3 separate regions of the Homo sapiens genome follow, and all the other regions are linked to region 1. The links come from fine-mapping of genetic effects on gene expression. A gene starts in region 1. Each other region holds a variant in brackets. All regions are shown on one strand. Distances are between the middles of the regions. Region 1 holds the start of KLHL30 (kelch like family member 30). Region 2 overlaps ESPNL (espin like). Region 3 overlaps UBE2F (ubiquitin conjugating enzyme E2 F (putative)).

The links. PIP is the estimated chance that this variant, and not a neighbour inherited with it, causes the effect. A credible set is the group of variants that fine-mapping cannot tell apart.
Region 2: its variant is the best candidate, but not a certain one, in a credible set for the expression of KLHL30 in whole blood (TOPMed, PIP 0.63).
Region 3: its variant is the best candidate, but not a certain one, in a credible set for the expression of KLHL30 in whole blood (TOPMed, PIP 0.66).

Annotation. Positions count from the first base shown.
Region 1 is chr2:238,137,437-238,140,192 of GRCh38, forward strand. It overlaps KLHL30 (kelch like family member 30), which reads left to right and starts at 1,232. Exons shown (of 8, transcript NM_198582.4): 1 at 1,232-1,322.
Region 2 is chr2:238,112,977-238,115,732 of GRCh38, forward strand. The region is part of intron 4 of ESPNL (espin like); the gene reads left to right. Among named protein-coding and RNA genes, the nearest start is that of ESPNL, 14 kb to the left of the region's middle. The variant C/T (reference allele first, on the strand shown) is at 1,267.
Region 3 is chr2:237,974,933-237,977,688 of GRCh38, forward strand. All of the region lies in intron 2 of UBE2F (ubiquitin conjugating enzyme E2 F (putative)), which reads left to right. The region is part of intron 2 of UBE2F-SCLY (UBE2F-SCLY readthrough (NMD candidate)); the gene reads left to right. Among named protein-coding and RNA genes, the nearest start is that of UBE2F, 9.3 kb to the left of the region's middle. The variant G/GT (reference allele first, on the strand shown) is at 1,658.

The DNA.
Region 1 (2,756 bases):
AGCTGAGCTGGGCTGAGCTATGGCTGGGCTATGGCTGGGCCAGGCTGGGCTGTAGAGGAAGCATGGACTCAGGGAATCTCTATGGAAGGTAACCCTAAGGGCACCTTGCAGACTTGGCAGTAATTTGTAGGTGAGCTTCCCCTCCATAGGCTGTGTGCATCTCAGGACCAGGAGTGGGGTTCTGTCTCCCTGGGGGCCGCCTGGACCTCTCTGGTCTGTAAGAGCATTAGGACAATCCCTAGTAGCATCAAGAGGCCACAGCCAGACCCAATACTCCCCAGTTCCTCCAGGTCGCAGCACACCTGGAAATGGTCATACTGCTCAGGCCCACATGGCCGATGGGTAGAGGGCTGAGGGCTGAGGGCTTCTCTCCCATGCACCTGAAGTCCCTCAGCCACAAAGCTCTGCTCTGGTCACTGGTGTGAGAAATGTCCAGTGGCCTCTTGGGTCCCCAACTCAACCCACCTGACCTTGGTCAGGGCCTGTGGTTCTGAGCCCATTTCAGTCCCAGGCGTGAGAGCTTCCCCCTGCGACTACCGTGAACCAAGTGCTGGACGGGAGGCTGATAGTCCACTGCTGTATTTTTAGGTGACCCTGTTTCTTAGCCGTCCTGGGCAGCCCCGAGGCCAAGGCCATGGGGTAGCAGGGCAAGGAGCCCCAAGATCTCCCCTATCCACGCTAGCTGGGCGGGGCAACTGAGTGTGGCACCTCCCCTCTCTGGGCAAAGTTTCCCTACCGCCACCATGGACCCCAAGCTCGGAAAGCCTCTGCTGACCAACCTGTGCTTATTCATGATAATCACGTTTTCCCACGTGACAACAGAACAAGAGGACACATAGGTGCCGCTGACATCAACAGCGAGGGCAGCACCTGTCGGTGTCCTGGCCCTGGGCTGAGGGTCTCTGTGACCCCAGGCCCCCACCACGGGCTCCACTGTACTCAACTTGTAGACGAGGAAACAGGTGGGGAAGCTGCATCCCTGCCCCCACCAGCCAGCCCAACCGCGACAGCTTTCACCTGTCCTTGCCCTGGAGCCCTTCCTGATGTCTGTCCTAGGCCACAAGTCCCTGGAAGGCCTCAGTGGGCTTTCTGAGCTAACAGTCACCAAGGAGCCGGCATCTCACTCCTTCCCCCACCAGCCCAGCCCTCACTGCCTGACCCTCCCCTCGCCCTGCAGACAGAGGCTAAAAATACCCTCCCCACGTGGCCACCAGACCAGCCCTGCCCCGCCCTGCAGGCCTCCGTGTCCCCTGGCTGCCGGCTAGGCAGTCCTGCTCTCTCGGGTCTGTGTTCTCAGCTTCGAGGTCCAGGCTGAGTGAGAGGTAGGATCCAGGGGGCTCTGGGGCAGGGGACAGCAGAGAGGGCAGGGGGAACCCAGCCAGGAGCAGCGGGGAGGGTGGGTTAGGCCCCCGAGGCCAGGGATCACAGCAGGGTGCTTTGGAGACGCCCCCTGGCCCTTGCCAGCGGCCAAGCCAGGCTCCTCAGGGTGGGGGCTCAGGAGACAGGTTTCCCTCCATGTCCCAGCCGGAGAGGTGGGAGGGGGAGGCTGGGCCACCCCTCAGATGGCAGCCAGGGCCACTCAGCCACAGTCGCCAGCCTGGCTGGGCTCAGGCCTTTTGTTGTCCTGCCCACTCGGCTTCCTCACTCCGGGCCTGGGCAGGCACTGGGGTGAGGCTCTGAGACCCTCAGGAAGCCCCGACCCATGCAGGGACTGCAGGGTGACAGGTGTCAGCAGGCACCCCGAGGCCCCCAGGGGAAGTGGGGGCGCTCATGCGTGCCTGCCCATCGCCCGGCAGCAGCTGGCCCAAGGGAGCACAACAATGACGGGAATGTGAGGCCTGCAGGCGGTGGCCCAGGGACAGCCCTGTCACCTACTCAGGCCCCAGCTCATCTCCCGGCTGCCCAGGGAGGGCAGAGCCGCCTTCACCGGGGCCAGCGCCTCCTGGGGAGGGGCCAGGCAGGAACCCCATGCATGCAGTGTTGGGTGGGTACTTCGTGTACCGGCCGGGATGCTGGGGTGTGGGGCCCCGGCCACGTGAGCTGCCCTGTGCGCGAGCCCGGGTTGGTCCGCGAGGCCCTGTGGGCTCCCAGGTGCTTCCCCGCTCTGGGGTCAAGAGGTGGCACCGGGGTCGGGAAGTCGGGGAGCCCTAGCTCCCATCGCCTGCACCTGTACCTGCACCGTGGCTGCCCGGGCCAGATTCTTGGCCTCCTGGTTCTCCAGCTGAGCTTTGTCATTTCCATGCGTGGCGTTCCCACGCATTTTGTACCTGTGGACGCGCGGCCGCCTCTCCTGCCCGGGATGGCCCCGCGAGGCGCCCCCTAGCGGGCGAACGGCCTCTCCGCTGCGCAGCCTTTCGCCCTGGGGTGACCCGGGTCGAAGGCTTGTGCACAGACTTGATCTCTCCTAGGGATGGTTGTCTTAGGGTGCGATACCAGAAGGACATAAACCACATGCACATAATTACATGAGCCTGAAAGCGGCCTTGCTGACTTCAACCATGCGGGCGTGGTGACGCGAAACCCTCCAGAACGCTGCCTTTGGCTGGCCGTTTCTGTTTAGCAGCCTCCACCCGGCCACGTGGAATGCAGGGTTCAGAGCCTGGGCCCCCAAGCCTAGCTCTGAGTTCAAATTCCAGCTCCACCACTTCCTAAATGTGTGATCTTGGGCAAGTGACTGAAACCTTCTGTGCCTCAGTCTCCCCAGCTGTAAAAGAGGCAATGATTGCACCCACCCTCCAGGACTGTTGTGGGGCTGA
Region 2 (2,756 bases), 24 kb before region 1:
TATGTCATTGTGTTCTTCAGATCTCCATAGGTACACATTTTAGTTTACTGGATTTCAAGTGGATCGAGAGAATTGTGTGAACATTCCTGGCTATTATTCTGGATTTGTCTGTGTTTCCCTACAATCCTGTCACCGTTTGTTTTATATATTTTGAACCCCATATCTAGTCTGTTTTATCTGATATATGTATACACATGACTTTTCTTTCTATACTTATTTGATGGTGAAGCTTATTCATACTTTGCTTTCGGCCTTCTGAATCCTTATGTTTGCCAGTACCTCTGGTTAACCATATGCAGTCATGTTTAATTTTTTTCATCAGCCTGACAGTCTTTACCTATTGGTGCATTTAGACCATCTATAGTCAGTATAATTACTAATGTTTAGGGGTTTATTTTTACTCTGTTATTTTGAGGAGATGTGATCTGGCTGCCTGGATTTTTCTTTATTTAAAAGTAGTAAGCACAGTTGTTTTTTGTCTGTTAGTTCTCAGAGCTTTATTTCTATTTCTTTGTGGGCTGGGTCTTCTGGTTCTTGTTCATGGTATTTTATTTCCTTGTATTTTTATTTTTGTTGACATATGCTGACATGAAAAATGAAGCGTAGGCATAACTGGAGGCCTTAGCAATATCTTATTTGCCTTTGCTGGGCACATGTGGGCCTAGGATCATCTTAATCCGCATTCCAGGCAGGAAGTTCCCAGGACCACCTCCGTGACAGGAACCAGGGGCCTGGCTGGCGTCTGGCTTCCATTTTCTCTGAGGGTGGAGCCCTTGGCCACATCGGGAGGTGGTCAACCAGAGCCCCCACCCCTGATGGAACCCGCACGGTTCCTGGCCTCCCTGGTCCCCTGAGGCTGCGGGAGGACGGCACATCATATAACTGTTCTTCCGTCGTCAGCCCAGGCTCAGGGCAAGAGCAGTTCTGAGTGCTGGGCTCCCCGACACCCCTCACCCCCCAGGCTTTCCTTTTCTCCTGAGTGTGGCCGTGTCACTCCTGACTTCTGCGTTACCTTACTGAGGCTGTCAGCAGGTGACTTTTACAGTGAATCCGTGTTTCACGTCCTTGGGCAGTGGGTTGGTCTGACCCACCTGGTTCTCTCCTCCCTGGAGTGGATCCATCTGCTCACCTGCTTTTCCACTGCTGTGGCCTCTGCACAGACTTCCAGACAGAGTTCTGTCTGTCACTACCCACCCTCTGCTGACAATCCCAGCGGTGATGGGGTCCGTCACTCTGGGGGAGAGGTTCCCTTCCTCCTCCCCATGG[C/T]TCTGTTCCTATCAGGGCTTTGCCCTCTCTCCCCAGCACCATTTGGGGCCAGGTCTGACACTTGTCCCCCTTCCTCTGCCGTGACACCCCTCATACTCCTGCAGACCCCGTAACTCCCCTCCTCCGCATCCTGGCCTCCTCTTCCCAGCAACAGCTCCTTGGGGACGCTCCGCCTCCACCCACCCACACACCCACCGCGCCCTGGCAAACCTTTGCCATTCCCCCAGCCCAGAGCCTCCGGGAGCAGTGCCTCTCTCCAGCGACTGGCTTCAGCGACCTGCCCCAGCCTCCCCAGCCCCGGTGTCCTTGCACATCTGACAAATGCTTCCTGCTTCCTCAGCCACACCAGCCACTGGCTCAGCCCTTCTGGGCCTCCAGGAGCCTTCAGGCGTTATCTGGTTCAAGCCTCCCAGCAGCCCCCGGGGAAGGGGTGTGCGCACGCCTGATTTTGTGTGGCCCCACAAGCTCAAAATAGTTTTTCCCTTTTTAAATGGGGAAAAGGAAAAAGAATCACATCTCATGACACATGAAACTCATCTGAAGTTAAAATGTCAGTGCCCACAAATAAAGCCTTGTGGGCACCCGGCCACGCTATGGGTGGCAGCTTTCGCACCACGACCAGGGTTGCATATTTGTGCCAGAGCCGGCGGCCCCCGGGCTGAGCTGCTTACTCTCTGGAGGGCAGCACGGCACCCAGGAAGGCAGGCAGTGCGTGAGCAGACACCCCAGTCTGCAGCTTAGAGGCGCAGGGTCATCATCCTCAGGCAGTGACAAGCCCTGTGGCTCTGCGGTTCTGGCGCTGGTCTTGCGGCGGTTCTGGCTCCGGTCTTGCGGTGGTTCTGGCTCTGGTCTTGTGGCGGTTCTGGAGCTGATCTTGCGGCGGTTCTGGCACTGGTCTTTCGGACCTGCAGGGATTCCAGGGAGCAGGGCTCTATCTTTTTGTCCACCTTCCCCTGGTGGCGCTGTGGCCTCCTCAGGCTGTGGCCACCTTGGAGGCCATGGAACTCAGGGCAGAGGAGGGAGGGGAAGGAAGCCCTCCAGAGGATTCCCCCAGGACAAGGCACTCGCCCTCGAGGTCTCAAGCTGACCTGCTAGCTGCGCAGGTGAGTGTCGGTAGGGGCCGGGGCAAGGGAGGCTGGTGGTGCCGACCATAGATCAATGCAGGTGTCCTTACTTTACAGACAGGCCCAGTTAGCTGGCCAAGTTCTCTGACCAGCAAGTCACAGAGCCAGATGAGCTCAAGGCCACTGGACTTCGCTGCCAGGCCCCCTGCCACACACGACAGCGTCACGTTGTATTTACTCACGGCATGGCACACCCGCCGCTCCACATGCATGCTGAACCTGTATTTATCTGTAGAGAATGAACACTAATTGCACCTTTTATAGGTGAGGCACTGCAGTCCAGAGAGGAGCTGAAAATTCCTTTGGGGTCTCACAACTTGTTTGAGGTGGAGTTTCACTGTTGTTGCCCAGGCTGGAGTGCAGTGG
Region 3 (2,756 bases), 160 kb before region 1:
GCCACTGTGCCCGGCCATAAATGGAGACAGAGTTTCACCATGTTAGCCAGGCTAGTCTTGAACTCCTGACCTCAGGTGAGCCACCCGCCTCTGCCTCCCAAAGTGCTGGGATTACAGACGTGAGCCACTGTGCCTGGCCTTACTTTATCACAGGTGTTTACATTTCTTTAAAATTTTTTTTTTTTTTTGAGACAGACTCTTACTCTATCACCAGCCTGGAGTGCAGTGGCGTAATCATGGCTCACTGCAGCTTCAGCCTTCTGGGCTCAGGCGATCCTGTCACCTCAGCCTCCTGAGTAGTTGGGACTACAAGCGTGCACCACCATGCTTAGCTAGTCTTTTTATTTTTTATTTTTTTGTAGAGATGGGGTTTCATTATGTTGCCCAGGCTGGTCTTGAACTCCTGGGCTCAAGTGATCCACGCACCTCGGCCTTCCCAAAGTGTTGGGATTACAGGTGTGAGCCACTGTACCCGTCAAGTGTTTACATTTCTTACATGTAGAGCAGCTAGAAAGCAAAGGGTTGATTAGTGTATTCGAACTCCCTGTTTTCATGTTGTATTAGGTTGACAACATGGAGATTGCAGGCATTTACGTGTCCTGAAGAATCTAACAGCAGAAGAGCTGGTGTATGTAAATGTGCTGTGCTTGGCCTTCCCAGACACAAATCACTGTTAAACTGGGGAAGGAATGGGAACTGTGAGGGCACTGGGTTTGTGGGGACTTAACAGTGTCCTCTTTTTCTTTTTTAAGACAGAATGCAGTGGCATGATCTCGGCCCACTGCAACCTTCACCTCCTGGGTTCAAGCGATTCTCATGCCTCAGTCTCCTGAGTAGCTGGAATTACAGGCACACACTACCACGCCCAGCCAATTTTTGTATTTTTAGTAGAGACGGGGTTTCAACATGTTGGCCAGGCTGGTCTCAAACTCCTGACCTCAAGTGATTGCCTGCCTTGACCTCCCAAAGTGCTGGACTAACAGGCATGAGCCACTGTGCCTGGCCTGTACTCTTTTTCTTACTCTCCTTCTGCCCCTGAGTTTGGACTTAGTTTTGGATTATCCAGCCTGATGATTGGTTGAAAGTGGAGTGAGAATGGTATTTCACATTTTGGCCTTACCTACTAAGCCTGGGAGAATAGTAGATTGTATTCAGCGTCTGTTGTGCTGGAGGCTTTACCCTAAGAGGCCCAGAGGGCGGGGCAAGAGCTGGAGCACCTTACTTGGGTGTGCCTGATAGGACTTGAGTGTCTTCTCAGATTCCGGGCTCCATCTGCAGCACAAGCCAGGAAAATGGTGTGTTGTTGCTGTACTTGGAGTAGACAGTGAGTGCTTCAGTGCCTGAGGAGTTGCAGCAAGGAGGGCCTGGATGTCAGCTGAGGAGGAGTGGGTAGAAGCTGACAAACAGACTGTCCCATCTTCTTTACCCAATCATTGTCATGGTTAATAGTAGCTAATAGGAGCTTTTGTATACTGAGCACTTAGGGCCAGGCCCTCTGTTGGGCACCTTCTTAGTTCATTTGTGCTGCTGTAACAAAATGCCACAGATTGGGTAATTTATAAACAATAGAGTTTTGGAGGCTGGGAAGTCCAGGATCCTAGTAGGATTGGTATCTGGTACAGGTAGTTCTCTGCTTCAAAGATAGCACCTTGTTGCC[G/GT]TGTCTTCACATGGCAGAAGAGATGGAAGGGCAAAAAGGGCCTAAGCTAGTTTCCTCCTGCTCTTTTATAAGGCCCTGATCCATTTATGCGGCAGAGCCCTGATGACAATCACTTCCCTAGAGGCCCCACCTCTTAATACTACCACAGTGGGGATTAAGCTTCAGCATGAATTTTGGCCCCATTCGAGCCATAGTAGGCACTTAATGGGGTAATTCTTGTTTGACTTTTCAAAGCCTTGCCAGATTGATCCTTCATTTTACCCATAAACTGCTGAGACTCAGGTTAAGAAACTTGCCCAGTTTGCGGGTTTATTGCAGCAAGACAGCCAGACCCACATACTGGGGTAGGACAGGCTCTGTGGGGGCAGATGCGACAAGCAGAAACCAAAGTAGCAGAATAGAAGTGCAAGTCCACAGAAAAGAGAGTTCAAGGAGGCTCTGCGTCTCCATGTCTCCTGCCCTGCTCAGGAACTCACCCTGGAGCTCTCTGCCGGCTCCAGGGCTGACAGAGCCCACTAAGACCTACCAACCTGGGCGCCCCTCCAGCTCCAAGGAAGGAAATATCTTTGGCTGGGTTGACAGGGCCCAGCTGAGGTTCTCTGACCTTGTGCAACCCATCAAGAACAAGAAGGTCTCACAAGGAGAAGGGTCTCACAAGGAGAGGTGCAGAGCCAACGCTTGAGGCTACCATTTCCATCCTCCCCAGGCACTGGTAGCGATTAAGTTTCAGAGTCCAAAGCACTGGCGATAAATGGCAGTAGAACTCAGTGTAACCTCCCCTCTCGTGGCCTTTCCTTCCACTCACCTCAGGGGCTGCAGGCCAGGCTGAGTGGTGAGTAGTTTGGGCTTGTGGTGGAGTTTGTGAGGTGAGGGTAAAGAGAAGGGTGGGCCTGATCTGAGAGAGGTGGCTGTACACACAAAGTGCAACAAGAGTGCCTGATGGTTCATGCTTGTGGGGTCCGCCCCTAGAGTGCTCCTTTGTTTAGCTTGCTTTGTGGGTGGCTTGTTGACCCTGGTGGCAGTCTGGCCTTCTATCCTCTGGGGAGTTATGGCGGAAGTGGTGCTGTGGAGGCTGCTGTGGCTGTTGGAGGGCATGGCA